7 linked regions of the Homo sapiens genome follow. The protein of the gene in region 4 interacts with the protein of the main gene of each other region in a pairwise test. Each region holds a gene or a part of one and is shown on either strand. Other genes may lie near its edges. The genes, in order: HSD17B11, HSD17B13, LDLRAD1, ANKRD46, MMGT1, CD46 and CRB3.

The links.
Region 1: the proteins of ANKRD46 (region 4) and HSD17B11 interact in binary tests that used the Homo sapiens proteins (3 or more experiments, as listed by UniProt).
Region 2: the proteins of ANKRD46 (region 4) and HSD17B13 interact in binary tests that used the Homo sapiens proteins (3 or more experiments, as listed by UniProt).
Region 3: the proteins of ANKRD46 (region 4) and LDLRAD1 interact in binary tests that used the Homo sapiens proteins (3 or more experiments, as listed by UniProt).
Region 5: the proteins of ANKRD46 (region 4) and MMGT1 interact in binary tests that used the Homo sapiens proteins (3 or more experiments, as listed by UniProt).
Region 6: the proteins of ANKRD46 (region 4) and CD46 interact in binary tests that used the Homo sapiens proteins (3 or more experiments, as listed by UniProt).
Region 7: the proteins of ANKRD46 (region 4) and CRB3 interact in binary tests that used the Homo sapiens proteins (3 or more experiments, as listed by UniProt).

Annotation. Positions count from the first base shown.
Region 1 is NC_000004.12:87,384,221-87,388,188, reverse strand, and holds part of HSD17B11 (estradiol 17-beta-dehydrogenase 11 precursor), read left to right. Parts: intron 1-3,968. UniProt on the Homo sapiens protein: Can convert androstan-3-alpha,17-beta-diol (3-alpha-diol) to androsterone in vitro, suggesting that it may participate in androgen metabolism during steroidogenesis.
Region 2 is NC_000004.12:87,319,852-87,324,553, reverse strand, and holds the start of HSD17B13 (17-beta-hydroxysteroid dehydrogenase 13 isoform A precursor), read left to right. Parts: upstream 1-1,671; 5' UTR 1,672-1,712; coding exon 1,713-1,922; intron 1,923-4,702. UniProt on the Homo sapiens protein: Plays a pivotal role in hepatic lipid metabolism. In vitro, it catalyzes the oxidation of a variety of lipid substrates, including 17beta-estradiol, retinol, retinal, and leukotriene B4.
Region 3 is NC_000001.11:54,008,187-54,011,686, forward strand, and holds part of LDLRAD1 (low-density lipoprotein receptor class A domain-containing protein 1), read right to left. Parts: intron 2,225-3,500; coding exon 2,096-2,224; intron 945-2,095; coding exon 796-944; 3' UTR 1-795.
Region 4 is NC_000008.11:100,531,992-100,535,959, reverse strand, and holds part of ANKRD46 (ankyrin repeat domain-containing protein 46), read left to right. Parts: intron 1-2,648; 5' UTR 2,649-2,751; intron 2,752-3,499; exon of another isoform or gene 3,500-3,604; intron 3,605-3,968.
Region 5 is NC_000023.11:135,963,777-135,967,744, reverse strand, and holds part of MMGT1 (ER membrane protein complex subunit 5), read left to right. Parts: intron 1-251; coding exon 252-355; intron 356-2,561; coding exon 2,562-2,721; 3' UTR 2,722-3,968. UniProt on the Homo sapiens protein: Part of the endoplasmic reticulum membrane protein complex (EMC) that enables the energy-independent insertion into endoplasmic reticulum membranes of newly synthesized membrane proteins.
Region 6 is NC_000001.11:207,786,252-207,790,219, forward strand, and holds part of CD46 (membrane cofactor protein isoform 3 precursor), read left to right. Parts: intron 1-3,968. UniProt on the Homo sapiens protein: Acts as a cofactor for complement factor I, a serine protease which protects autologous cells against complement-mediated injury by cleaving C3b and C4b deposited on host tissue.
Region 7 is NC_000019.10:6,462,996-6,467,401, forward strand, and holds CRB3 (protein crumbs homolog 3 isoform a precursor), read left to right. Parts: upstream 1-1,275; 5' UTR 1,276-1,355; intron 1,356-1,612; 5' UTR 1,613-1,706; coding exon 1,707-1,788; intron 1,789-2,549; coding exon 2,550-2,623; intron 2,624-3,470; coding exon 3,471-3,677; 3' UTR 3,678-3,955; coding exon of another isoform or gene 3,956-4,027; 3' UTR 4,028-4,226; downstream 4,227-4,406. UniProt on the Homo sapiens protein: Involved in the establishment of cell polarity in mammalian epithelial cells. Regulates the morphogenesis of tight junctions.

The sequences.
Region 1 (3,968 bases), on a different chromosome or scaffold from region 4:
CTAGATTGTTTTTTTTTTTTTTGGTGTGACTACTAGAAAGATTAAAATTATATACATGGCTTGCGTTATATTTCTATGAGACAGTACCGGTGTAGAGATTTAAAGGGCTGGAGCTACAGATGATAAAATTTCCTGTATTTTGGCTTTTTACTCTGGGGAGTCAATGAAGGGTTTTGAGGGTAATTCCTATTGAAGAGGATCCTCCAGCTGCTGGGCTTAGGAGAGATGTAAGAGGAGAAAAGATGGAAGGAACAAGTAAAGTAAGAGACTACTGTGATAATCCAGGCATGAGATGAAATGATGGGGACTATTGAACCGGGTTGGCAGTAGCAGAGATTCGGAGTAATGGTCAGAAAAATTGAGGACAATGTAGTGAGTTTTTATTAGGTTAAATTAGTTTAATTTAAATAATCTATATTTTATTTTGAGATTATATCCTTCCTACTTTTTGTGGGTAAAAAATATATTTGTTAATGAAATTACATGATAACATATGAGGGTCATTTTGTTAGTTTTGAGTGTCCTTATTTGGCCAAAAGTTTGGCAATCCTAGTTCGGTATACACATCCCACTCTATTTTTCTTGCCGTTTTATAGATTTGAAATTATAGAAGGCTGAGAACCACTAAACCTGATTGGGAAAGGACAGGGTGGGGATTTGGAGCAGTCCAGGTAGCAGAAACTGGAGATGTGAAGCTCTTGGGCTGGTGAATACCTGGAGAATGAGGAAGAAAGTGGAGTGGTGTTTGATTGTTATGAGATCTAGCTGGCAGGGCAGGGAGGGGCCAAACGGAGGGCCCTTTCACCTAGAGTACAAAGACAATCTCTTAGATTCATCCATGTAATGAGGACAGCAGTGTCCACATGTACCATATGTTAATTTAGGGAAGAATTAATGGTGGTGTCAGCTTTGTTGTTCCACTAAGCCTGATAATGGGAATTATTCATTCTGCTTTGTGATAATCTATCACTTCTTGACTATTCTCATTCCCATGCTTGGTTAGAATAGTTTGTAGCCAGGCATGGTGGCATGCTTCAGTAGCCCCAGCTACTCAGGAGGCTGAAGCAGCAAGATTGCTTGAGGCCGGGAGTTCTGGACTGTGGTGCGCTCTGCATGTCTGCATAAGTTCAGAATCAATATGGTACCTTCTGGCGGTGGGCATGAAGGAGACCAAGTTGTCTAAGGAGGGGTGAACCAGCCAGGTTGGAAACGGAACAGGTCAGAGCTCTGGTGCTGTTCAGTAGTGGGATCATGCCTGTGAATAGCCACTGCACTCAACCTGCGCAACAGGGAGACCCTTTTTCCTAAAATACTAGTTTGGAAAGAAAAATTTACAGTAAGTGGTGAGCATATAATATATGCTCAAAGACTATTTGTTGAATGAAAAACTGAATTAATGAATAACTGAAAGAATAATGGGCATAATTTAAAAAGTTTTTCAATTTTTAGTAATCAAGGTAATGGGTGTAAAGGTCTTAGTTGTACCAATAGACAAACATATTTGAAAAAAGTTACCAAGGGAAATCTTGAAGAGTTATGAGCAATTGTACTGTGCTGCAAAACATTTTAAAGGAAGAATTCATTTTTTTTTTGAAGATCTGCTTATTTTTTATTTCTTACCAACTATCTACAGGGCACTGTCCGGAATTTTTTCTGGAGGAATTTAGAACTTAAATTTGTTGCACCGGCCGGGTGCAGTGGCTCACCCCTGTAATCCCAGCACTTTGGGAGGCCGAGATGGGAGGATCACTTGAGGCCAGGGGTTCAAGGCCAGCCTGGGCAACATGGTGAAACCCCGTTTCTCCTAAAAATATAAAAATTAGACGGGTGTGGTGGCGCATGCCTGTAATCCCAGCTACTAGGGAGGCTGAGGCAGGAGAATCACTTGAACCGGGAAGGCAGAGGCTACAGTGAGCTAAGATTGCACCATTGCACTCCAGGCTGGGTGACAGAGCGAGACTCCATCTCAGAAAAAAAAAAAAAAGTTTCACAATTCAGAAGGTGTGGAAAGCAGACCAACCTAAATGAGGAAGACCAAGGAAACAGGGCAAAAGTGAGACAGCGGATGTGAAAGAAGGGTATCTTTGCATCCATATAGTGGAGTGGTGGTTAGTTGCTTGGTGGTTACAGAAAGCCAACCAGTAATAAGCAAATCTCTGAAAACAGAATAAATGGGACATAAATTTTTATTGTAAAATTTGTTCATGTAAGGAAATATATTTGTTCAAAAAAGAGAAGACCCAATCAATACAATATACTTTTTTTTTTTTTTTTGAGATAGAGTCTCGCACTGTTGCCCGGACTGGTGTGCGGTGGCAAAATCTTGGCTTGCTGCAACCTCTGCCTCCCGGATTCAAGTGATTCTCCTGCCTCAGCCTCCCAAGTAGCTAGGATTACAGGTGCCCACCACCACACCCAGCTAATTTTTTATATTTTTAGTAGAGGCAGGGTTTCACTATATTGGCCAGGCTATTCCCAGAATCCTGACCTTGTGATCTGCCCACCTCAGCCTCCCAAAGTGCTGGGATTACAGGTGTAAGCCACCGCACCTGGCCAATACAATATACTTTTAAAAAACTTTTTAAAATATGGTAAAATATATGACATAACACACCATTTTAACCATTTCTGAGTGTACAGTTTAGTGGCATTAAGTACATTTACCTTATTATGCAGTGATCTCTTCTATTTCTCTCCAGAAATTTTTCATCTTCCCAAGATGAAAATCTGTACCCATTAAAACAATATATCTCCCCAGCCCTCTCTCTCCCCAGGTCCTGGCAACAACCATTCTATTTTCTGTCTCTATGAATATGATACTCTGGGTACTGCATATAAGTACATTCATATGGTATTTGTTTTTTGTGTCTGGCTTATTTCATTTGGCATAATGAAGGTTGTACGTGTAGCATGTGTCAGAAATTCATTTCTTTTTAAGGCTGAATAATATTCTATCCTATGTGTATACAACATTAATATACTTGTAAAAGGAAATGCCAAAAGCTGCTGGTTAAGTATAGGAGAGCAAAATAAAGTTTACCTGAGATGTTGATGTCCCTTGAGGAATAAGAGTTCCTCATGAGAGTATACTACAGTTTGTGAGGGAGATTTCAGTAAAAGAAAAATATTGTGGGAACCTGCCCCCAATATTTCAATGTAGCTTCTTTCTATTTTCCATAAGTGTCAGCCGGCTGAGAAATAAAGAGAGACAGTATAAAGAGAAATTTTACAACTGGGCCGCTGGGGGTGACATCACGTATCATGATGCCCCTGAGCCTCAAAACCAGCAAGTTTTTATTAAGAGTTTCAAAAGGGGTGGGGGTGTAAGAACAGGGAGTAGGTACAAAGATCACATGCTTCAAAGGGCAAAAAGCAGAACTACTGATAAGGGTCTATGTTCAGTGGTGCACATATTGTCTTGATAAACATCTTAAACAACAGAAAACAGGGTTCGAGAGCAGAGAACCGGTCTGACCACAGATTTACCAGGGCAAAGTTTTTCCCCACCCTAATAAGCCTGATAGTACTGCAGGAGACCAGGGCGTATCTCAGTCCTTACCTCAACCACATAGGACGGACATTCCCAGAGCAGCCATTTATAGACCTCCCCGTAGGAATGCATTCCTTTCCCAAGGTATTAATGTTAATATTCCTTGCTAGGAAAAGAATTTAGCAATATCTCTCCTACTTGCACATCCGTTTATAGGCTGTCTGCAAGAAGAAAAATATGGCTCTTTTTTGCCCGACCCCACAGGCAGTCAGACCTTATGGTTGTCTTCCCTTGTTCCCTAAAAATCACTGTTATTCTGTTCTTTTTCAAGGTGCACTGATTTCATATTGTTCAAACACACATGTTTTACAATCAATTTGTACAGTTAACACAATTATCACAGTGGTCCTGAGGTGACGTACATCCTCAGCTTATGAAGATAACAGGATTAAGAGATTACAGGCATAAGAAATTATAA
Region 2 (4,702 bases), on a different chromosome or scaffold from region 4:
TTACCATTTTAACTATTTTGTAATGTACAGATCAGTAGCATTAAGCACATTCACATTGTTGTATAACCATCACCACCATTCACCTGCGGAGCTTTCATCATCCTAACTGAAACTCCATACTCATTAAACAATAATTCCCCATTCCTTTTCTCCTCATCCCCTAGTAACCACCTTACTGCTTTCTGTCTCTCTCTGTGTATTTGACTACTCTAGGTACCTCATATAAATGGAGTCATACAATATTTATACTTTTGCATCTGGCTTATTTCACTTAGCATAATGTCATTAAGGTTCATCTATCTAGTAGTATGTGTCAGAATTTCCTTCCTTTCTAAGGCTGAGTAATATTCCATTGCATGTATATATCATATTTTGTTTATCTGTTGATGAACACTGGGGTTGTTCCCACTTCTTGGCTATTGGAAGTTGCTATAGGCTGCATGTGTTCCTTCAAAATTCATATTATGAAATCCTATCTCCCAGTGTGATGGTTTTAGGAAGTGAGACCTTTGGGAGGTGATTAGGTCATGAGAGCTCTGCCATGGGAATAATTGCCCTTATACAAGAGAACACGGAGGGTTTCCTTCCTCCTTCTGCCACTTGAGGTGACAGTGAAATGACAGCCATCTATCAACCAGGAAGCCAGCTCTTACCAGACAAAGAATATGCCAGCGCCTTGATCTTGGACTTCTTGTGAGAAATAAGTTTCTGGAATTTATAAACCACCTGGTCAATGGTAATTTGTTACAGCAGCAGACAAAGACAGAAGCCACCCCACTTTAAAGTTGAGATTCCCGACTCCTGGTCTAATGCTCTTTCCAGTATTATCACAAAGGGAACTGATGGTTCTGTATCCTAAAATCTCCCCCAAACTCAAGAGATTTTCAGGGAAATGGTCATCATGTGTAAAATAATTAGCCAGTTGAAATATTGATGCTGAGCTTTTGTGAATAAATGAATCAAATAGCTAAGCTGGGTTCATTCAGACTTTATCTAAGTTTCTTTAAGCTTATCTCTACATTCTCCTTTTTCATATTGAAAAAAGGTAACAATTTCCAGAAAGATACCAACAGATCATTAGCTGATGCAGTATCTCCAGAATTCTTTTTCTTTTTTTTTTAGACCAGGCCTTGTTCTGTTGCTTAGGCTGGAGCGCAGTGGCACAATCACAGCTCACTGCACCACGAACTCATGGACTGAAGCAATCCTCCTGCCTCAGCCTCCTGGGTAGCTGGGACTACAGACACATGCCACCATATCCAGCTAATTTTTTTCTATAGTTTTTTTTTTTTTTTTTGAGACAGGGTCTTACTATGTTGCCCAGACTGGTCTCGAACTCCTGGGCTCAAGCAATCCTCTGCCTCAGCCTCCCAAAGTGCTGGGATTACAGATGTGAGCCACTGCACCTGGCCCCTAGAATTGTTTCTAGAGGTGAAACTTCAAGGTGAAATATAGTACATAACTGCTTTTCAGATAAACAAGTCCAGAGAGCACACTCTCTTGTGCTCTTGGCATCACTTGGCATCACTTCATATTTGAGGTGTTTCAAACCCATTAGAACACGTGAACAAGGCCTGCTTCCAAAGCTGGCTTCCATCTGGTAGTCCCATTAACAACTGGGCACACCCCTTCCCTAGAGCTCTGTGTAGACAGTACCTCCTCCCTAGGACTACACAAGGACTGAACCAGAAGGAAGAGGACAGAGCAAAGCCATGAACATCATCCTAGAAATCCTTCTGCTTCTGATCACCATCATCTACTCCTACTTGGAGTCGTTGGTGAAGTTTTTCATTCCTCAGAGGAGAAAATCTGTGGCTGGGGAGATTGTTCTCATTACTGGAGCTGGGCATGGAATAGGCAGGCAGACTACTTATGAATTTGCAAAACGACAGAGCATATTGGTTCTGTGGGATATTAATAAGGTAATGTATACATCTTCCAACTTTTTAAAGTCACAGAGTAAGATATGTATTTTAAGAATTATTTGACTTACCATCTACTTATCTTTGTATTTTTGTTTTTCAAAGTTTGATAAATTCCCTGGTCCCTTAGTCTGTATATGTGTCAGGTTAGTTAGATGAAGGGAATGTAATTAAGAACTAAGCAGCGATTTTTATGACATGGTGTGCAGGTTGATAGAAAGACTCAGGAGCCAGTCTCCTTCCAAGCTGCTAAATGAGGCAAGTCACATATTATCTCTCAGCCTGTTTTCTTGGCTCTGAAGTGGGGATAATAACTTAGGGGATGGGCAAGAACGGGATCTGAAAATTACAGCTACAAACAAAAGTCAAACGAAGAACTTGCAACAGAAACCTTTAGTGCCTCCCCTCATGCACAAGCAACACAGTTCTAAAATATTTACTGTCTGACCCTTTACAGAAAATGTTTGCCAGTCCGTAGTCAAAAGGATTAAATAAGTAATATTTTCAGCACTTAGCATATGATAAACGATACGTGGCACATGATAAACAATAACTGTGTTAAATAAAATATGTGCGCAGTGAGTCAGGCTTTTCCTTGGACATTAGTATTTTTCCTGTGTTCTTACTTGTAAACACTACATTAACAACCCCAAATAAAACTGAAGGAACTGAAATCTTGTATCATTTTCTCTAAACTTGTAAATTCTGGTAAGGCCATGAAAATATATGCAGAGAAGTGTTTACAGGATTTTAGGATTGGAAAAATTGTGAAGTACTCCTTGAGAATCACATTTTCTGCAAATTACAGTGGTTTTAATTACCATTATATTATTACTTTCTCATGTTCTTTGCTGTCATGTTTAGTTGAAACCTAAAATGTCTCTTACACTTAGAGAACTAATTCTTTTCTGTTTTTTTTCTGAATAGTGAAGAATACTATACAAAAAAGCTACTACATTTTTATTTAACAGATATGAGCATTTATATAATAGAGGAGTTGATGTATATAAAAATGATTTGCCATCTTTTTGGTCTTTGAAGAAATTCGAATGAACTTTCTGGAAGATAGCAAGAATTTACAAATAGAGAAAATTGTTGCCTGCTGTTCTCAGGCATTTGTCCAAAAATATAAATAAGTATAAATCTATGAAAAGGGCTTGATGAAATCTAACCTTCAAATCTCTTTCCAGATGTGTATTTTTGGGGAAAGGGCTATATTTATTAAGTTTTTTTTAAATTTTAAAATTTCCAGAGACAAGAGAAAAGTAAATTAGAAGGAAGTCGTATTAAAAATGACTTAAGGGCGGGTGCAGTGGCTCACACCTGTAATCCCAGCACTTTGGGAGACGGAGGTGGGCAGATTGCTGGAGCCCAGGAGTTCAAGACCAGCCTGGGCAGCACAGCAAAACCCCCAACTCTACAAAAAATACAAAAATTAGCTGGGTGCGGGGGTGCACACCCGTAGTCCCAGCTACTCGGGAGGCTGAGGTGGGAGGATCGTTTCAGTTCAGGAAGCCAAGGCTGCAATGAGCTATGATGGCATCATTGCACTCCAAGCTGGGCAATAGAGCCAGGCTCTGTCTCAAAAAAAATAAAAAAAGACTTAAGAAAAATAGGTAACCCAACCTCAAAAATTCTCTTTGAATCATTAAATTTCATGGTTAAACATTTAAGCTACTGAATGATTCACTCTAAGGCTGTAATGTAACTCAGATCTCCTTTAGGCGAGGAAGATGCTGGCTGAGTTTTCATCATAACTGGCTCCTTTTGCCCTGTGAGATGAGAGACACAGTAGCAGTTTGGCTCTTATGCAATCTAAACTGTTGCGTTGGGAATACGGTTCAAAAAACACATTGGAGTTTAAGCTAAAGCAAGTGTTTTGCTAACAAAAAGACAAGGCATCACATTTTGCAATTGTCTAGCTCAGTTATAAAACAGAAGAATAGGCCGGACGCGGTGGCTCACGCCTGTAATCCCAGCACTTTGGGAGGCCGAGACGGGCGGATCACGAGGTCAGGAGATCGAGACCATCCTGGATAACACAGTGAAACCCCGTCTCTACTAAAAATACAAAAAAATTAGCCAGGCGTAGTGGCGGGCGCCTGTAGTCCCAGCTACTCGGGAGGCTGAGGCAGGAGAATGGTGTGAACCCGGGAGGCGGAGCTTGCAGTGAGCCGAGATGACGCCACTGCACTCCAGCCTGGGCGACAGAGCGAGACTCCGTCTCAAAAAAAAAAAAAAAAAAAAAACTGAAGAATAATTAATTCTTCAATCAAAACATCTGATGAATGCTCTGGTAACTTATGCTCTCTACTGACCTAGAAACAAATGAGAGAGTATGGTGTGGTTTGTGCAATCTGGCAGTGAGCAAGCTACCAACTAAATCAGTGAAAGACTCTCCTATTCTTTTTTTACTCTTCTGCAATCCCACAAAAGGCTATTTGAGGGGATACTGACTTTGAGACTGGGTCCTAACATCCATGTTTGGGGAGTTCAGGCTGCTGCTCCAGGGTTTAGCCTACAGTAGCGAAATACAAAGGACCCAGAGACCACTCATTCAAGGTTTGCCCTAAATAGCAGCAACACCACTGTCATCTCAATACACGAAGAATAGGGCTTTTCAGGTATCCTTGCCTCTTTGTCACAGAGAAGAGTTTACAGATTGTGAGACGGAAAAGTATAATTTTTAAAACCTTATAATATTTTCTATAAAAGTCACCTGAGGTGAAAACTTGAAAAGAATTATAATTTTCCAGAATGTGAGTCAAGAAACATTAGAG
Region 3 (3,500 bases), on a different chromosome or scaffold from region 4:
GGGTGGCTTCCCACTGGTAGGATGCCAGATATCCTGTTTCATGTGCTGTGTCACTTGGTTAAATCAGTAGAGCCTGCTGGGTTAACTAAACTGGGGAAGATGCTAAAGTTGCATCCAAGCCCAGTATATCTGCCTTAGGTACCAAAGGGGTAGGAAGTGGCATATGTTTCACGTATGTGCCATCCATGAAGGCTAAACTCGGCTTGTCATTTAAGCCCCAGACATGTCATCACTCTAAGGGATGACGAGATTAGGATCCACAAGTATGCCTTGGAGCAGTTAGCAGATTTCCTCTGTGTGGCCCCAGAGACAGGCATGAAATCATGGAAGCAGATTCCCTTCGTCTTTGTTTGTGTTTGTGTTTTGTTTCATTTTTTTTTTGAGACAGGGTCTCACTGTGTTGCTCAGGCTGGAGTGCAGTGGTGTGGTCACAGCTCACTGCAGCCTTGACCTCCTGGGTTCACACAGTCCTCCCACCTCAGCCTCCCTAGTAGCTGGGACTATAGGTGTGCACCGCCATGCCTGGCTAATTTTTGTATTTTTGGTAGAGACGGGGTTCCACCACATCATCTTTGTTAGAAGCCACCTAACATGGTAATGAGCTCCTGGTCATTGGAAGCATTCAAGCAGAGGCTGAACAACTTGAAAGGAGGAGAGAAAATTCCTATTCAGAAATGATGTGTAGATCCCATTTCAAAGGCTGCTTCCTGCCCTTGTGCGCTAGGATTTGATTTTCATGTGAAGGGTTATCAGTGCCATTCCAGCCAGCCTTCCATGCTGGCCTGAGTGGCCCACTCAGGGTCCGGGACAGGCATACTCATCGGACCAGTCGGAGCAGTGCTGTACATGGTCGCGGCAGAGATGCCTCGGTATACAGTCGCAGTACTTGAAGAAGGTTGAAGGACAGCGCCACCACCCAGGGCCGCAGGGTGGGCACACAGTTACTGCAGAGACAAGAGCCAGCAGGAGAGCAGTTGCTGTGTCCTGGAACGCTCTGTGCACCAGGGCACTCCCTAGTTCTGAAACCTGCCGTAGCTCCCCATGGCCCCAACCCATCTGACGTGAGTTGAGTGTGTTCCTAGTTTTCCTGCGGCAGAGAGAATCTAGACTCCACAGCTCACAGGCTATGTGACCTCCCTCACCCTGTCTGAAACTGTTTCCTAGTGTGCTCAAGCTTGTTATCAAGCAAAGGATGTCAGGCAAAGTCCCAGGCACACGGTAAAGACTGCAATATGAATGGGTGCCCTTCCTTACCCTGAGTCCAGCTATGCTCACCTGCCATGACTGCCTGAGGGTGCTCCTAGCCTTCTCTCCTCTGCTCAGGCCTCCGGCATTCCTCCCCACACACCCAGCCTCTACCTACTGAAACCCGTCTATTCTTGGTCTTCTTGAATGCTACCTCTTCTGAGAAATCTCCCTTGATTCCTCCAGGTCCCCAGCACCTCCTTTCGGCATCAGCATGATGTGAGTCCTGGGGGTAGGACACATGCCTGATTCCTGATGTCCCCCACCTGAATCTGATACCAGGTGCGTTCTGAGCACCCCACCAATGCTCAGAACATGTTTGTTGATTGACCACTGGGGAAGAGATTGAGAGGAAACTCTAGGGCAGCTACAGGACTCGGGACTTGGATCAGGAGGCCTGGGTTCACACCTGAGCTCCCTTCCTGTCACACATTGTACTAAGTTTCTCCTCTCAAAGCCTCCATTTACTTACATACAAATTGGGGCCAGTGATTCCTGCCCTGCTTTCCTCACAGGGTCACTGGGAGGTGCAGAGATAAGGGAACCCCAGGTTCAAATCCCAGCTGGGCCATGTATGTACTCCTTGCATGACCACCTTCTGGGACCCAGTTTTCTCATCTGTGCCTTTGAAGGTGACTTCCCCACTGCAGAAGAATGAGCCTCCAGAAAAAGTCACTTGGAGTGGTAGTGAGTACCCCATCACAGGATGTATTCAAGCAGGGGTAGAAAACTCCTTCCTAGGATGCAGGGAAGCATGCAAGGGGGAGCCCTAGAGATTCCCTGCTCACCCTTTGCCCTCTGGCTGCTGCCTGGACACCAGCCCCAGCCCAGCCTGTGCCCAGACCCCTACCTGGGCTCAGTTCATCTGAACAGTCCCCGCAGTTGTTAGTGCCATCACATTTTTGGTCTGAGTAGATCCAGGAGGCCGGGTCTCCACAGTGGGCCACAAGGAAGTGGGGGAGGCTCTGGGGCACATCTCCTGTAGAGGTACAGAGGAGGCAGGAAGAAGTCCACATCTGGCCACAGCTGTCTGAGGGTTATCGGGAGGAGGATTGACCACCCTGGCAGTGGCCAAACTCAGGATCAGTGCCCATCCAGCCCAGAAGGGTGCAAGCAGAAGGTTTCCTGGGGAGGTGGTGGAGTCAGAGGGAGAGGAGAGCTCCGTTGCTGGACAGAGGCCCAGAGATCTGCCCCTCCCTTCCTCAGTTCCTCCCCAGCTCTGGTGTGTTCCTGCCCCACACCACTGCTGACACTATGCCCCCCTCCACAAAGAGCCTCCTTGACACCTATCCAAAACCATTCTTTCAAGTTCAGGTTCAAGTTCCATCACCTCCAGGAAGCCTCTTCCAACTGGAACATCACAGGAATAAATGTGGAGTCTTACAGTTGGGCCCCGGATCTCAGGGGAAGATCTAGGGTTCACACACCTTGTAAGGCAGAGTCAGAGCACCTTTCTTGAAAGTGTGTTCTGTTAGGCAGCAGTGTGATAGGGCTATCAAAAATTCACACAAACTCAGGCCACATCACTAGAGGTAGAAAACCTTGGGCAGGGAGGGAGCAAGATTCTGTTCGTTAGACTGCCCAGACCCAGCTAGAAGGGCTGAGGATGTTTCTGAGGCCTGTCCAGGGACGGGGACATGGGAAGTTGATATTCATTCTGTGGAGCATTGATGGAGTGGGGAGGGCCAGGAACTGGGTCACAAGGGGGCTGACTGTGACCTGGAGAAGGGGATGTGGCGTAGAGAAGAGAAACCTCATGGAGGGCAAGGGAGCAATCTTCAAATCCATGCAGCACCACCATCATGGCAGAAATTAAAGTGTGGTCTATCGGGGCAGGGTTGACAGAAGGACAGAGTTGGAACCAATCAGGGAGGAACCACTCTGGGAGGCAGCTCTAAGCCTGGGACAAGGAAAACCTTCCCATGGAAAAACCTTCCAATCCTTGCATCCCCTGGGATGCAAGCAGAGGCTGGGTGGCCTCGGTTGGGCTTGCTAGAGAGGGGATTGGGGATGAGCTGGGGCAAGGACTAGATGCTTTTGAGATTGCTTCTTGTCCTGAGGGTCTGTGATGCAATGACTCTCCCTCCATGAGCTCCCCCACCCCACCCACTGCACCTCTCCAGGCTCTCTCTCTCCTGTGGGGTCAGGCTCCTCTCTCCTGAGAACCTTCAGGTGTGTCTAAGGTCTGGGGCCAGGTCTTCCCATTCATTCATTCGCTCATTCATTCAGCAAGCCGTTCTGAATACCCCTCTGTG
Region 4 (3,968 bases):
GTCTTTTAGTCACAATCTTCAGGTCTTCATACGACTCACTAGTTGCTCTCCTGACCATTTATCCTAGAGAAATGAAGATTTACAGTCACATACAAACAAATGTTTGTAGAAGCTTTAACAATGGCCAAAAACTGGAGACACCAGATGTCCTTCAGTAGATGAACTGTTATATTGTGGTACACCCATGCCACGGAATACTACTATGGATAAAAAAGGGACAAACTATGGATACACACAGCTACCCTGGATGAATCTCCAGAGAATTATACTGAGTGAAAAGACCAATCCCAAAAGGTTCCTGTATGTGCTGTATGGCTCCATTTATACAACATTCTTGAAATGACAGAATTAAAGAAGTGGAAGACTAGGTAGTGTTTTCTAGGTGTTAAGGAGAGACTGGCATGGGAGGGAAGCAGGAATAGCTAAAAAGGGCAACATATGAGAGATTTTTCATGGTGATGGAAATGTTCTGTATCTTGACTATATCAATGTCAGTATCCTGGTTGTGATGTTGTACTATAGTTTGGCAAGATGTTACCATTGGGGGAAACTGGATAAAGGGTGCACAGGATCACTCTGTGTTATTTCTTACAACTGCATATGAATTTATAATTATCTCAAAAAGTTTAATTTAAAAAAGTCTTTAGTCCTCTTCACCCATTGGACAATCGTTAAATATGTGCTCTGATTTGTATTCACTTTATGACTTCTTAGGGAAGCTATTAACAGAGTCTAGTGAGTAAGGTCTAACTGAGGTCTTGGAAGTTTTCTTGGCAGGTTTCTAGTAATTTAGTCTAATGAATTTGTATAATATTATTATGAAATCATACAAATCTGTAATTTGTTCAAGTGTATTTTCTTATGGGCCATTGTAATATCCAAAGAAAATGGCAGGCTGGTTGCGGTGGCTCACGCCTGTAATCCCAGCACTTTGGGAGGCCAAGGTGGGTGGATCACCTGAGGTCAGGAGTTCAAGACCTGCCTAGCCAACATGGTGAAACCTCATCTCCACTAAAAATACAAAAATTACCCAGGCATGGTGGCACATGGCTGTAGTCCCAGCTACTGGGGAGGCTGAGGCAGGATAATTGCTTGAACGCGGAGGCCTCTGCAGGTGAGTCGAGATTGCACCACTGCACTCCGGCACCAGCGACAGAGTGAGACTCTGTCTCAAAAATAAAAAAAGAAAAAATTGCAGAAGCATTGTCCTTCTTGTGGATTTAAGAGAACATTAGGATTATTTGGGGGCATGACCATATGAACTATAATTCCATCTCTAGATGAAAAACAAAATTTTTTCTTTTTCCCTAATGTGAGCTCTACCACATCCAGAATAACCCACTTGCACCATTTTAATTAACATTGAAAATTAAAGCCAAATCATACATTAGAGACAGGCTCTAGTCGTTAAAGACTCAGCTCTAGAGGTCAGGACAAGAGAGGAAAAATATTAGGCTTTGGGTGAATACATAATATTTGTTTAAGGAAATCAAGGTAAGTGGCTCCGTGATATGAAGTTCGTCTAAATTGATACTGTGGTATCACAAAAGAAGTAGGAAATGAGGAGCGTAGATGTTTTGTGTGTTATCATGTCTTCGTGATATTTACTGACCCTCGTGTGGGACTGGTCCTCAGGTACAGTTTGTCAGCTATTGTCATCAGTTCCAGCCTAGCACTGATAGCCTTTATGATACAACCTGACTTACATATTGTAAATGGAGCTTTGTAAAATACCATTAATTATTTCCCTATATAAATTTGTTCACAGGGATTTGATAACAATGAACAAGGATGATCGGTAAAAAGTTAACCTGTATTTCACCCTGACCAGGAATTTGGGATTTGGACTTGATAGCATGGTATCTGGCACATTGCAGGCACACAGTGAATGTTTGTTTCATGAACTAATATTGCTATTTTTGTGGTCCTTACTGCCTGCCCATGACCCTGCTTCCACGGTCCTTCCAGAGAAGAGCTGAGTGGGCAGACAGGGTGCCCTCGTAGTCTCTCTCAGTGCAGAGAAGTGCAGCCTGGGTGGGGGAGCAGCGTCAGGCTATGTAAAGAAGACTACAGATAGACTTGGGCCAGCTTTTATTTCACACTGAAAAGACAAGGAAGGGAACAGATTTAAAGAGATTTAAGTACCAGCATTCAAGGTAGATTAGAAATACTTTTTCTTAAATGTATCCTGTTTGGTTTAAATATAAGTATTGGCTTTTTAAACTTATTTTTTCCCACTATGAATAGTATTTTATTTATAAAAATGCTTTTGTGGACTAATCTGGGATCTAGCCTCCATTTATAATGTGAAAAATATGCATTCTGAATTCCAAGTAATGACTGAGAGTGAATTTTCGGAGCCCAATTTGTTCTTTAGTGATGGCACATAATTTGATTCTTATTCTTTTATCTTTCTGTCTTGCTTTCTTGTTTGTGGGCCACAGAGCAGCTTCTATTAAGCCCTTCTTTGCTTCCTTTTCACTACTTTGTTACTCGTCAGATATTTTTCTGGCCTCACAAGTTGATGCCTCACCTACAGATTTTCTAGAGAATTTCTTCAGGCTCAGTAACCTGTCTGTATTTAATAGAACAGTGAGTTCTTTTTCTCACCACACTTCTATTATAACTTAATTTTCTATTTACTGTAGATCCTTGCCAGCACATTACAGAATATTTTTGTTGAACCTTCTTGAGAATTCAGAGAAACTGCTGAGTGACCACTGAACGAAAAGATCTAATCTTAAGGCTTACGTGAGTATTTACTACTGTGGACTTCCTCACAAGATGTGAAACCTTCAGTGAACTGCTTTAGGACAGATTCAGTTCTGTGATCAAGATGAAAAATAACTATCATTGGGCTTATTAAATGTGGGATTAAGTTTAGTAGTTGCTCAGGGACACAGAGAAACTGACAAAATACACACTTGTTCTCACCTGAAAAATAGACACAGAGACTTGTATTTCTTGCTGAGCCAACACTCAGAAGTATCCTAGTCTGCAAACCACAAGAATTCTTACTGTGTCTGAATCAAAAACACCAACTAGATTTTTTAAATTATCTATTTTTAAAAATTTAACCAAAACACATTACCTTTTGAAAAGCACTTGATATGTGGCATTTCATTTTGAAAAAGGTTTATGATAGCTTTTCCATTTTTATGATTCAATACTGTGCAAGCTTGTCCAACCTGCAGCCCAGAACAGCTTTGAATGTAGCCCAACACAAATTCATAAACTTTTAAAAAACATTCTGAGATTTTTTTTGCAATTTTTTAAAGCTTATCAGCTATCATTATGTATTTTATGTGTAGCCCAAGACAATTCTTCTTCCATTGTGACCCAGGGAAGCCGAAATGTTGGACACCCTTGCTGTAAGGGAAAATATTTAGATTACCCTCGCAAAAGAATTCTTGACTATTTTATTGAGTAAATTCTTCTCATTGAGTTTTTCTGTTTGTTGGTTTGGTTTGGTTTGGTTTGGTTTGTTTTTTTGAGACAGGCCTCACTTTGATGCCCAGGCTGGAGTGCTGTGGCTCAATCACAGCTCATCGCAACCTCGACCTCCCGGGCTCAAGTGATCCTCTCACCTCAGCGTCCCGAACAGGTGGGACGAAAGGCGCGCGCCACCATGCCTGGCTAATTTTAAAATATTTTATAGAGACAGGGTCTCTCGCTATGTTGCCCAGGCTAGTTTCGAACTCCTGGGCTTCAAGCTATCCTCCCATTTTGGCCTTCCAAAGTACTGGGATTACAGGTGTGAGCCACTGTGTCCAGCCAGATTTTTAAAAAGTCATCATATGTATCATAATCTGAAGTTTATTTTGATTTTAATCTCTGTAGTTTTTAATCATAAACTTTTTTTCGTATTTGAAATTATTCTTAACAGCCCCTTTTCACCCTTCATTTCATATCCAGTGAGTCATTAAGTTGTGCTAATTCTGTCTTCTCTGTTCCTCTCCAGTGCGTCC
Region 5 (3,968 bases), on a different chromosome or scaffold from region 4:
AGTACTCAGTGATTTTGCTTATTTGAACACTAGATTTATTTATTGAAGCATCAGAGGTATTTTTGCAGCCAATCCACAGAATTTATAGATTGTATTGTGTCTGAATCCCAGTCATTTCAAGTGAGCATTGTCTCCCTGATGGTGGCCCTGAGAGGACTACCTGTTAGAGGCAATGAAGAGGTAGAGAGAAAATTGTAAATATTTATAATAATGTTTGTGTTATTTAGTATTATCAATCTTTATACTCACAGATAGTTCTTCAGACACTTCTGGCCTTTGCAGTTACCTGTTACGGTATAGTTCATATTGCAGGAGAGTTTAAAGACATGGATGCCACTTCAGAACTGAAAAATAAGTAAGTCTTTCTCTTTTCATAGGCATTGCATTTCATAGAGGTTTGCTGTATTCACATAATTTTAAAAAGTATGTTTTCTGATACATAAAAGTTGGTTTTGTTTCTGCATTTTGATTACACAGTTTGTATGAATAATGAGGTAAAAACATTGAGGCGGTATTTGATACTGTAAGAAAATGGAAGATGAATGCCAGATTATTCACAGTAGAATCAAAAAAATACGTTGCTTAAAATTATTGGTTGGTTGTATGGATGAAAATAGATATATAGAAAAATAATGCCTCAGAATTTTTAACCTTTCTCCTTCCATTCCTTCCTTGCTCCCTTTCTTCCCCCCTCCCTTCCCCCTTTCACTCCTTCCATCCCTCTCTTCCTACCATCCTCTTTCTATCCTCTTGTCCCAGCTTAGTCTTTGGAAGAGTAAGTGGTTTTCGGTTTCCCCTCTCACTTGAACCTAGTATGTGAGATAAGCTCTGCTCCCAGGCCCTTTTCTACTACTGGATTAAAAGTATATTTGTTATTCTGCTTTCTTTTTTTTCTCCTGGACTACTTCTAAGCTATTTTCATGAGCTATGTTTGCTTTTATTTTTCATATTTTTACTTTCCTAAAATCATCCTTTAGCTTTGTTCAGTTCCATCTCTGGACTTTACCCACCTTCTTGATCCTGGACATGATGCCCCTTTACAATATTTTCTTAGAAGGAGTCACAGTGAACATTTATGTGTTAGAGGAAAGTCATATCCCCCTTTTAGTTCATTATGTACATTTTATTTATTTTTATTTCTTTCTTTCTTTATGGAGACAGAGTCTCTATCAACCAGGCTGGAGTGCAGTGGCATGATTTTGGCTCACTGCAACCTCTGCCTCCTAAGTTCAAGTGATTCTCCTGCCTCAGCCTCCTGAGTAGCTGGGATTAACAGGCACCTGCCGCCATGCCCGGCTAATTTTTGTATTTTTAGTAGAGACGGGGTTTCACCATGTTGGCCAGGATGGTCTCGAACTCCTGACCTGAAGTGATCCACCCGCCTTGGGTTCCCAAAGTTCTGGGATTACAGATGTGAGCCAACGTGCCCCACCCAATATGTACATTTTAAGGAGTTACATATCAGGCCTCTTTTTTGTATGGGAGTATGCTTGGATGTTTAGGTGGGCTGAGATTTGAGTTTTTGTCAAAGGAAGAGTTCTCCTATCCTTTCCAGGAAAATAATATTGAAAAACAAAAACCATAAAGGCCACACACCAAGGTGTTTGTGAACTCTTTTAGACTACATATCTCTCACTGGAAAAGTAGAAAGGATACTTTACTGTCATCACTGCTTGCTCTTACAAAGAGTCTACCAAGAATCACAGGCAAGGGGCCAGGAAAGAAAGAAGTAAAACAATGTCATTAAGTAGGTGGTAGAAAAATATGTGTTTGGACAATAGCAGGTACAGAGGGCCAAAAGGAATTTTTTGTTGTGCTTGAAAGATTCTTGGAAAACAGATCTGTGAAACGATCATATGGCTTGAATAATGAGGGCCAAATGAGAATAATCAAAGCTGTAATCTATGTGCTGCTTTTTTAAAAAGACTATTCGACATGCGTTACTGTTAGATTTACAGGGGAGATTAATAGTTGAGCTAGTATTTGTGTTGTTATTCATAGGCATTCTGGAAGGAATGGCTGGATAAAAAAAAATATTAGAAGCCGGGCATCATGGCTCATACCTGTAATCTCAGCTCTTTGGGAGGCTGAGGTAGGAGAATTGCTTGATCCTAGGAGTCTGAGACCACCTGGGCAACATTGGGAGACCCTGTCTCTACAAAAAATAATAATAAAAGAAAGCCATGTGTGGTGGTGCGCATCTGTAGTGCCAGCACTTGGGGGGCTGAGATGAGAGGGTCGCTTGAGTCCAGGAGTTTGAGGCTGCAGTGAGCTATGATTGTGCTACTGCACTCCAGCCTGGGCAACAGAATGAGACCCTATCTCTATTTTTTTTAAAAAGAAGAAATTTGAGAGCTATATGCTGCTTTTCCAGGTTTCTTATTTTCTTTATATAGGAAAAGAGATACAGTATAATTATTATTTACAGTCTGATTTCATGTATTAATACTTGTTAAAAAATATAACCCATAGTAAATTGATAATTCGTTAGAAGCCTACTTATTTTCAAGTAGGGTTTTATAAAGGTTTATCTAAAATTGATGCTTTTTTCTTCTTTCAAGGACATTTGATACGTTAAGGAATCACCCATCCTTTTATGTATTTAATCATCGTGGTCGAGTACTTTTCCGGCCTTCGGATACAGCAAATTCTTCAAACCAAGATGCATTGTCCTCTAACACATCATTGAAGTTACGAAAACTCGAATCACTGCGTCGTTAAGATTTTTACAAATTATAATAATAGGACAGGACACAGAGCTGGAATATTGGAGTTTGGGGTATAAAACACTCCTCCCTGCCCCCATTAGTATTTATATTGATCTTTCAGACCTACTTTAGTAAAAAAAACCATGGCCCTTGTTTATATACTGTTAATCCAATCATTAATGCAGTGTAAGTTATATGTGAAATGAGTCTTTGGTATTTCATATAGGAATTATTTTTTTTTTCATTTAAAACAAATCCACATCTTTTGTAAAAGCCACTGTTTTGAACACATTTCCTTGAAAAATGTTGGTGGTTTTTGTGATTATTTATTTTTTTAGATTTCTTTTCTTTTGCACTACAATTTTTGGAATCCTTTTGGAAATACTGTGTGACTGCTGTGTTTTGCAGCATGAATTATAGTAAAATGGTCTTCAATTCTTAACAAATGGACTTCCCTGATGAGACCAAAATGGTGATTTAACAGTTTTTCTTGTGTCCCCTAAAAAGTGGCTCTGCTTCAGAAGTACTTGCCAGTTTTTAATTTATTTGTGACTTTTCACCCTACCCTGCTCCCATATACCTTCTACCATCAGCTGTCTTGTTTCATCATTTCTCTGAGATTCTGTGTGCAGTGAGCAATTTTTGTGTCAGAAATTCTTTGTCAGAACAAATATATGTAACAGGCTCAACTTACTGTAAAGCTACTTGTGTTCTCTTCATTTGTCTGTAAAAATTTCCCTAATTGATTATATAGTGTAAGAATAGTTGAAGACTAGTTGAAGACCTTTTGTGATTTCATTATCATGCCTATGCAGAAGAAAAATCATTGAGGAAAATTGTCATTAGCCAGTTTAACTGATTCAAACTCTGTTTATTTCATACTAAACTAGTGAATAAGTGAAATAAAGGAAACTCGTCATTAATCTAAAGACAGAGTTCAAAGGAATTGGGCCAAATATATTCTCAGTATTTGGAACTAATGTTTTTAAGGTTTTTAGGAAAATCAGGTCATTTAAGAAATTGTTTTGTAGTTTCTGGTTTATAGCAGTCTTCAAGTTTTCCATCTTCACTGTATGTTGCTGAAAGTGAGGATGAGGATACAGAGTTGATATTTTTAGAAACAGTAATTTTACTTTTAAGGAAATTGGCTAGCTCTTTGAGCTAGAGAGCTGTAGGAAGCTCAACATTTCTTTGTAGAGAACGTTGCTTTTTTTGGATTGTACAGGTATAAAAACATTGCTTTTGTTGAATTGTATAGGT
Region 6 (3,968 bases), on a different chromosome or scaffold from region 4:
TCTGAATTTACCAGATTGCAGTAAAACTGATAGGGTTAAAGTTAAAATTGCTGAGAGGGGTTAGATCTATAAGGTACCTCAATTAACTGTGTCTTTTAATATATAAAAATGTAAAAAGTGAGTGGGTTTAGAATAGAAGAAAAATGTACAAGTACATATCTTCTAAAGAAAATAGGGTTTTAAAACATCAAACTCAAATTTTAGTTAAAGAGCTTACAGTTTAACAAAAGACTTAGAATGAATCCTGGAACACAGACTAAGATTAGGTGCTTTGAAATTTCTGAAAGATAATATACATTCATTTTTACTGATTTTTAAAAACTGTTTTCCCCTATAGTTTTAGAAATAGCTTTGAAATCAAACCTAATAATTTTAAGACTTTTGGTACTCATGGTTTTATGATATATATTCCTTTTATACTGATCATCAGGTTTGGGCTAAGTCATAAAAGTACAAGCTTTACTCATAAGGAACTCAAACTTTTTTCATATTACTTGGTTATCTTTTGAAATACCCATAATCCCTTCACTTGAATCTTAAATCTTGTATTAATGGAACACGATATGCATATTTGATTTATCTATCAGTTGTATATTCTAAAAGTTACATATCTACAACGTGAGTACAAAATATTATCAATGGAATATTTTTACAAATCCATAAGGTTTGCGTAGAAACAAGTTCTAAAGAAAACAAAACAAAGTCGCATTCTGCTTATTTTCCTTCTTTGTTTAAAATATCACTGCATCAGAATTTTTAAAGGTTCATTAACAAGTATTAATCAAACTCTCTCTAGCTAGCAGTTAATGGTTTTTCTGTTGTTGTTTTTTGCTTTTTTGTGATGGAGTCTTGCTCTGTCACCCAGGCTGGAGTGCAATGGCGCAATCTTGGCTCGCTGCAACCTTGGCCTCCTGGGTTCAAGGGATTCTCTGCCTCAGCCTCACGAGTAGCTGGGATTACAGTCGTGCACCACCACCACCGGCTAATTTGTTGTACCTGTACTAGAGATGGGGTTTCACCATGTTGGTCAGGCTGGTCTTGAACTCCTGACCTCAGGTAATCCGCCCACCTCGGCCTCCCAAGGTGCTAGGATTACAGGCATGAGCCACCGCGCCCGGCCTTAATGGGTCTTTTAAAGCTCAACAGTTATCTGACTGTTACACTCCCAAATGAAAGGTTCAATAGCAGTAGTGAACTGAGATTCCAAAATTAATTTGTCCAGTGATTTTTTTTTAAAGCCCATATTTTACAGCATAGGGTCCAACTGACAGTTGCCATTATTAAAATTTTAAAATATTTTGGGAAGGTATGATATCTTTAGCCAATGCAACATAATTAATCCTGCAAATAGTAGCACAACTTGAGGAAAAATAGTCCAGAAAATGGTGTGAGAGACGAAACTCCTAATTGCCTTTGAACTTTAAAATATAAACTGCGTGGGAATCTTTTAGAATAGATGTTACCCTTTTTATGACAGGAACATACTCGATTGGAAATTCAGCATATGTAATGGCTGAATCCAAAGCTAGGCTCTCTTTATGGATCTATTATTTTGTAGTTCCATGTTATTTTGATAGCTGAACTGAATGTGAGGGTGGTTTATCTTTCTTCTTCAGAGTCTAGAGGAATGTTTCTCTGACTTTAATGTGCACATTAGTCACCTGGAAATCTGTTAAAGTACAGATTCTGATTCATTGGGTTTGGGGTGGAGCCTGAGACCCTGCCTGTCTAGTGAGCTCCCAGTGCTGATGCTGCTGCTGTGCCTGGGCTACACTGACCAGGGTGTTGCCCACTACTGATGTGCCTATATTGTTGAAGTCTGAAGAAACACTATGAAGCTTATTGGCAAATTTTTCTAATATTTAAGATAATTGAAGTTTTTAAGATTCCTCATCCATGTGTATCCTTAAAAAAAGGCTATGGGGTAATAAATAGTACTTGGCTTTTCTTACCTTCTTTAACTCTTAAAAAACAAAGATTTCCAGCCGGGCCTGGTGGCTCACGCCTGTAATCCCAGCACTTTGGGAGGCCGAGGCGGGCAGATCACGAGGTCAGGAGATCAAGACCATCCTGGCTAACACGGTGAAACCCCGTCTCTACTAAAAATACAAAAAAAAAAAAAAAAAAATAGTGGCGGGCGCCTGTAGTCCCAGCTACTCTGGGAGGCTGAGGCAGGAGAATGGCGTGAACCCCGGAGGCGGAGCTTGCAGTGAGCGAGATTGCGCCACTGCACTCCAGCCTGGGTGACGGAGTGAGACTCCATCTCAAAAACAAAAAACACAAAAAAACCCCAAAGATTTCCATTATTTTCTTTGCACTGTTTAATGTCCATAATCTTGTCCCCCCAGATTGGCTGTTGTGGCCTTAGAAACTTCTTATAAAGACTATAAAATGTCTGGAGGCACTTCTCCACTTCCGGGGGTAACTGGAAGCAGGCTAGCAGGCACAAATAATCTCAAATTGTTGTTAAAGCCTGGCACAAAATGTATTTCTTGTAAACTGGTATTTATGGTGATTTGGGAACGTAATTACTCTTCTGCAGCCTTCATCTCAAAATACAAAAATAGTGTAAGGAGTCATTTTAAGATCATCCAACATCATTTACATTACTTGATAAAAAGTGGGCAAAAGGTTAAAGTATTCTGCCACTTTTCTGTTTCATAGCTCTCAGCTGAGAACAGTATAGGATACCAGTGGGTCCGAAACAGGTCCCATCCACATGCTCCCTCCTTTTCCCTTCCCATTTCCTTTCTTTACTAATTCTTCTACCATACTTTTTAGTCTTGGAAGCCACAGCCCTGTCTTTGCTACTGCTTCAGTCCTGTATTGCATGGCATGACTGTGCTTCTGAACAACAGATGCCTTTTGTTTACATAAATATTTAAGTAATGGTTTTTTTTAAATGCATGATTATTTTTTAACTCTAGTTAAGCATCCCTGGATAAGTGACAGTTTGGCTAAGTTAGTGAAAGTTATTTACATAATTTATATATTTATTACCTGTGACAAATAGTTTTTCCTTTTTTCCATTAATGGTATTTATTATTTTGTATAACCTAAACTGACTTTTAATGTTACATTAATATTGACTGACCCAATTACTTTATTAAAAATAGTGGTCAGTTCAGGTAATTGGGGCATATAGTGACATGGGGCAAAAAAAGGATCAAATTAACTTAAATGTTTTTCTAGTTGGCCCTTAAATTCTTGAGCATTTAACCCTTCAAAAATTTTTGAGCAACTACAAAAATGTTTTGTAATTAGTTTAGAAAGCATCCTTACAAAATTAGATCCATCTCAGAAATATGAGACGCCATGTAATACAAAGTTTTGCAACGATGTCTCCTCAGGTTGAAAACAGATGTGCCACAGGAAGACACTTCTTAATGTAAAAGTCCAGAGACATCTGAAAATACATGATGTCATAAAGTTGATTTCTAGATAATATTACATGGATTTGATACATACTCAATGTATTCCCTCAAAATTGAGGGTGTTAGGCCGGGTTTGGTGGCTCACGCCTGTAATCCCAGCAACTTTGTGAGGCCGAGGCAGGCCGATGGCTTGAGCTCAGGAGTTTGAGATCAGCCTGGGCAACATAGTGAGATGCTGTGTCTTGAAAAAAAAAAAAAAAAAAAAAAAAAAAATCAAGAGTGCTAGAGACCGGTACCATTTCTCCCCAACAATCTGTTATTCCTTGAAAACATTTTGACATGAATCACTTCATGCAAAATGGCTTCAAAGATAAACATATTAAACAGGAATTTCCAGTCTGTTTATCTGCTGGATGATCTATATGACTTCAAAGTTCAAGTAGCTTCTAGCACAAAATTCATGTTTCCAGTCCTTCAGTGAGAATGAGAAAGTCTTAAGTTATGAACCTAATTCTCAGCTTTCCTGCTACTCTCTTACACTGGATTTTATCCCACTTGTTATGCTACTCGTTTCTTTTTGGTTTGAAGTCACTA
Region 7 (4,406 bases), on a different chromosome or scaffold from region 4:
ACCATGCCCAGCCTTGGCTATATTTCGTATAGCTGTGATTCAATGCAGATTTTTTTTTTTTTTTATGAGATGGAGTTTCACTCTTGTCACCCAGGGTGGAGTGCAATGGTGCAATCTCGGCTCACTGCAATCTCTGTCTCCTGAGTTCAAGCAATTCTCCTGCCTCAGCGCCCCCCGAGTAGCTGAGATTACAGGCACCTGCCACCACACCCGGCTAATTTTTGTATTTTTAGTAGAGACAAGGTTTCACCATGTTGGGCAGGCTGGTCTGGTTTCGAACTCCTGACGTCAGGTGATCCTCCTGCCTAGGCCTCCCAAAGTACTGGGATTACAGGCGTGAGCCGCCGCACCCGGCCATCTGTTTTCTGTATGTTCTTATATGTGAACACCTGTGCAGTTGTCTTCTGTACAGGTTTGGTTCCACACAGGTGTTTACCATACAGCTGTTTTTTTGTTTTTAAAATTTTTTTAGAGACAGGGTCTCACTTTGTCACCCAGGCTGGAGTACAGTGGTACAATCATAGCTCACTCACTGTTACCTCCACTCCTGGGCCCAATCGATCCTCCCACCTCAGCCTCCCAAGTAGCTGGGGCTACAGGTGCGTGCCATCACATCTGGCTAATTTTCTTATTTTTTGTAAATATGGGGCCTCCGTCTGTGGGCCAGGCTGATCTCGAACTCCTGGCCTCAAGTGATTCTCTTACTTCGGCCTTTCAAAGCGCTGGGATTACAGGATCACGCCACCGCCCCCGGCTTATTTTCTTCTTTTTATTTATTTGTTTATTTATTTATTTATTTTTTGTAGAGAATGAGGCCTCGCTGTGTTGCCCAGGCTGGTCTCGGACTCCTGGCCTCAAGCAATCCTCTTGCCTCGGCCTCTCAAAGTGTTGGGATTACAGGCGTGAGCCATTGCGCCTGGGCAGGTATTTTTTCTCATTAAGCGCTCCCCATCCAAGTCTGCCCTAGGCAGGAGTGCCTAGTGCACGGGTACATACATACCCCGTGCGTCTCCACACCTGTGCGCTCCCACAGATATGCTCGCAATGCAGGTGTAAGGTCCCCCTCACACCTGCGCGCTTCCGCGGTCTCCCTCCCCGCATCCCCATTAAGGGACTGGGGTCCCGTTACAGGTGCGCCCACAGCGCGGCCCCGCCCCCTTCTTGACTCCGCCCTCTCAGCGAGGCTCAGGTGCACAAGCCGGAAGTGCGCTCTCCCAGGTGAGTGACTAAACTTTCCGGGTCACGTGACAGGGCGGAGCCGGTGGGGTCGGACCCACAGAACGACCGACGGACCGAGGGTTCGAGGGAGGGACACGGACCAGGAACCTGAGCTAGGTCAAAGACGCCCGGGCCAGGTAGGAAGGCAGGACGCACCGCTAGGCCTGCCCCCTCGCCCGTCCACCCTGCCCGTCCCGTCCCGTCCCGTCCCGTCCCCTTCCTTTCCCCAGCCCAGGAACGCGCTCCTGGGAGTTAATCTTTAATCGCTGACCTCTGGCGGCTGGGGCGGGGCGGGACTCATGGGTGCCCTGGCGCCAGTTGTCTCTCCTGTGGGCCTGCGCCGGGGTCCCCACCCCGATCCCAACGCCTGGGCCTCTCCTTCTCCTGTCCCCAGGTGCCCCGTCGCAGGTGCCCCTGGCCGGAGATGCGGTAGGAGGGGCGAGCGCGAGAAGCCCCTTCCTCGGCGCTGCCAACCCGCCACCCAGCCCATGGCGAACCCCGGGCTGGGGCTGCTTCTGGCGCTGGGCCTGCCGTTCCTGCTGGCCCGCTGGGGCCGAGCCTGGGGGCAAAGTAGGTACCAGCTGAGAGCGCTGGGGGGGAGGGGTCTGGATTCCTGGATCTCTGCTGGGGACGTGGCTTAGAAGCGCTGGGTATCTGGGGCGCAGAGAGGGTCAAGAATTGGGGAGCGGGGAAGAAATACCTTGGGGAGGGGTCTACAGGGTTAGGGCTCGGGGGGATTAAGATTTCTAGTTTCTTCCTTGGACACTGGGAGTTGGTCTAGGAGACCTGAGTTCCCCAGCGAGGTGGAATTGTGTGTTGGAGTGGGGGCTCCTAAGTAGGACTTGGGGGGAGGTAAGGGCTGCGTACCTGAGTCTTGGTATAGTGCAGGTGTTTTTGGGTGAACTGGGAGCTGGGAGGAGGCCTGCCGAGCCGGGTCGACCTGGTTGGCTGAAGGTGTAGACCCCAGCCATTCAGTCTTAGATTTGTTTTGGGAGCCTGTGGGGAGGTGTGAGTCAGACACTCCAGGGAAAAGCTAGGCCCGCCCAGATCCTTAAGGGCCCAGGGCCGAGAGGTGAGTAGGGGAGGGGTGGACTTCTGGACACCCTACTGGGCTCTGCGGGACTGGGTCGGGGGGGTGTCCTGGGGAGCAAACACCCAAGGGAGAGGTCTTACCTGCAAGACACCCAACCATCTCTGTGCGAATGAAAGGCAGAGTTTGAATTGGGACCTGCTAGGGGGAGGTGAAGGGGAATGCCCAAAGCAGGTGCAGATGGGCGGGGATGGGAGAGAAAGATGGAGACTGAGTTATTCTCTGCCTTCACCCTCCACAGTACAGACCACTTCTGCAAATGAGAATAGCACTGTTTTGCCTTCATCCACCAGCTCCAGCTCCGATGGCAACCTGGTGAGTTGGAGGTATATGTGGGAAGATGGCAGCAAGGATGTTATCTAGGGGTCACACATATAGCATGTAGAGAGGACTAGACACCCCCTCCCCCCAGAGGTGGCAGGTCAGGGTGGCTTTGGAGAGCTCTAAGTAGGAGAGACCTGAAGTCTTAGACCAAGAAGACTAGGACACCCTGGAGGGAGTGGGCAGGAATACTGTAGCTGTCAGATGTGTGGGCTCAGGAATTCCATATGCCTCTCAGGTGGGTGGGGGAGCAAGGAGCTCAGACTTGGTAGATGTGATGAAAGCAGGAGTCCCGGCCGGGCGCGGTGGCTCACGCCTGTAATCCTAACACCTTGGGAGGCCGAGGCAGGAAAATCATGAGGTCAGGAGTTTGAAACCAGCACGGCCAACATGGTGAAACCCTGTCTCTACTAAAAATACAAAAAATTAGCCAGGCGGGGTGGCACACACCTGTAATCCCAGCTACTTGGGAGGCTGAGGCAGGGGGAATTGCTTGAGCCCAGAAGGCGGAGGTTGCAGTGAGCCGAGATTGTGACACTGCACTCCAGCCTGGGCAACAGAGCAAGACTCGGTCTCAAAAAAAAAAGCCGGAGTCCCAGACATGGCAGGTGCTTGCGAGGGGTGTCCCGGACATGGCAGGTGGTGGGGAGCCTTCGCACCCCAGACAAGGTAGGTAGGGATCCAGGAAGCCCCACTGTGGGGATCAGATCACCAAAAGTGGCAGATGTGTGTATGTGTGTGTGTGTGTTGTGGGGTAGGGGGTGATGAGGGGGATGCCATTCAGGTGGAGGTGGACAGGCTACCCAGGCTCAGGTGATTCACACCTGTCCCCTCTCTGCAGCGTCCAGAAGCCATCACTGCTATCATCGTGGTCTTCTCCCTCTTGGCTGCCTTGCTCCTGGCTGTGGGGCTGGCACTGTTGGTGCGGAAGCTTCGGGAGAAGCGGCAGACGGAGGGCACCTACCGGCCCAGTAGCGAGGAGCAGGTGGGTGCCCGCGTGCCACCGACCCCCAACCTCAAGTTGCCGCCGGAAGAGCGGCTCATCTGAACGCTGGGGCCTGCTGCAGCCACCAACACTGCCCAGGACTGCGGGTTGCTGGCTTGTACACCGCAGCTGCCACCGAGACACCAGCCTCTGATGGCTCAGGAGGACTTGTGGGGAGAGGCTGGGGGCACCCATGTGGTGGGCTCTGTGCAGCATGTTGCCTCTGCTTGGCTGTGCCTGCAGCTCAGGGTGCTGGGGCTCGGGACCCACCCCCCTGCTTGCGGAACCAACTTTTCTCTGTGTGTCCAGCAGGCCCCACAACCCCCTCTCCTTTCTTTCAGTTCTCCCATGCAGCCGAGGCCCGGGCCCCTCAGGACTCCAAGGAGACGGTGCAGGGCTGCCTGCCCATCTAGGTCCCCTCTCCTGCATCTGTCTCCCTTCATTGCTGTGTGACCTTGGGGAAAGGCAGTGCCCTCTCTGGGCAGTCAGATCCACCCAGTGCTTAATAGCAGGGAAGAAGGTACTTCAAAGACTCTGCCCCTGAGGTCAAGAGAGGATGGGGCTATTCACTTTTATATATTTATATAAAATTAGTAGTGAGATGTAACAAAAGCTTTATTGGTGTGTTTGAGCTGGTGGGTGCATTAGCTGAGATGGAAGTGACAAATGCCGAGAGGAATTGTAAGGTTGCCAGGATTCTAGAAGACCAGGAGGCTTCCTGGAATTCCCTGCTAGGAGCCAGTTAGAGAGGCTGCCCTTGGAGGGACAGAGGTGGGTGGGATGGATTTCCGA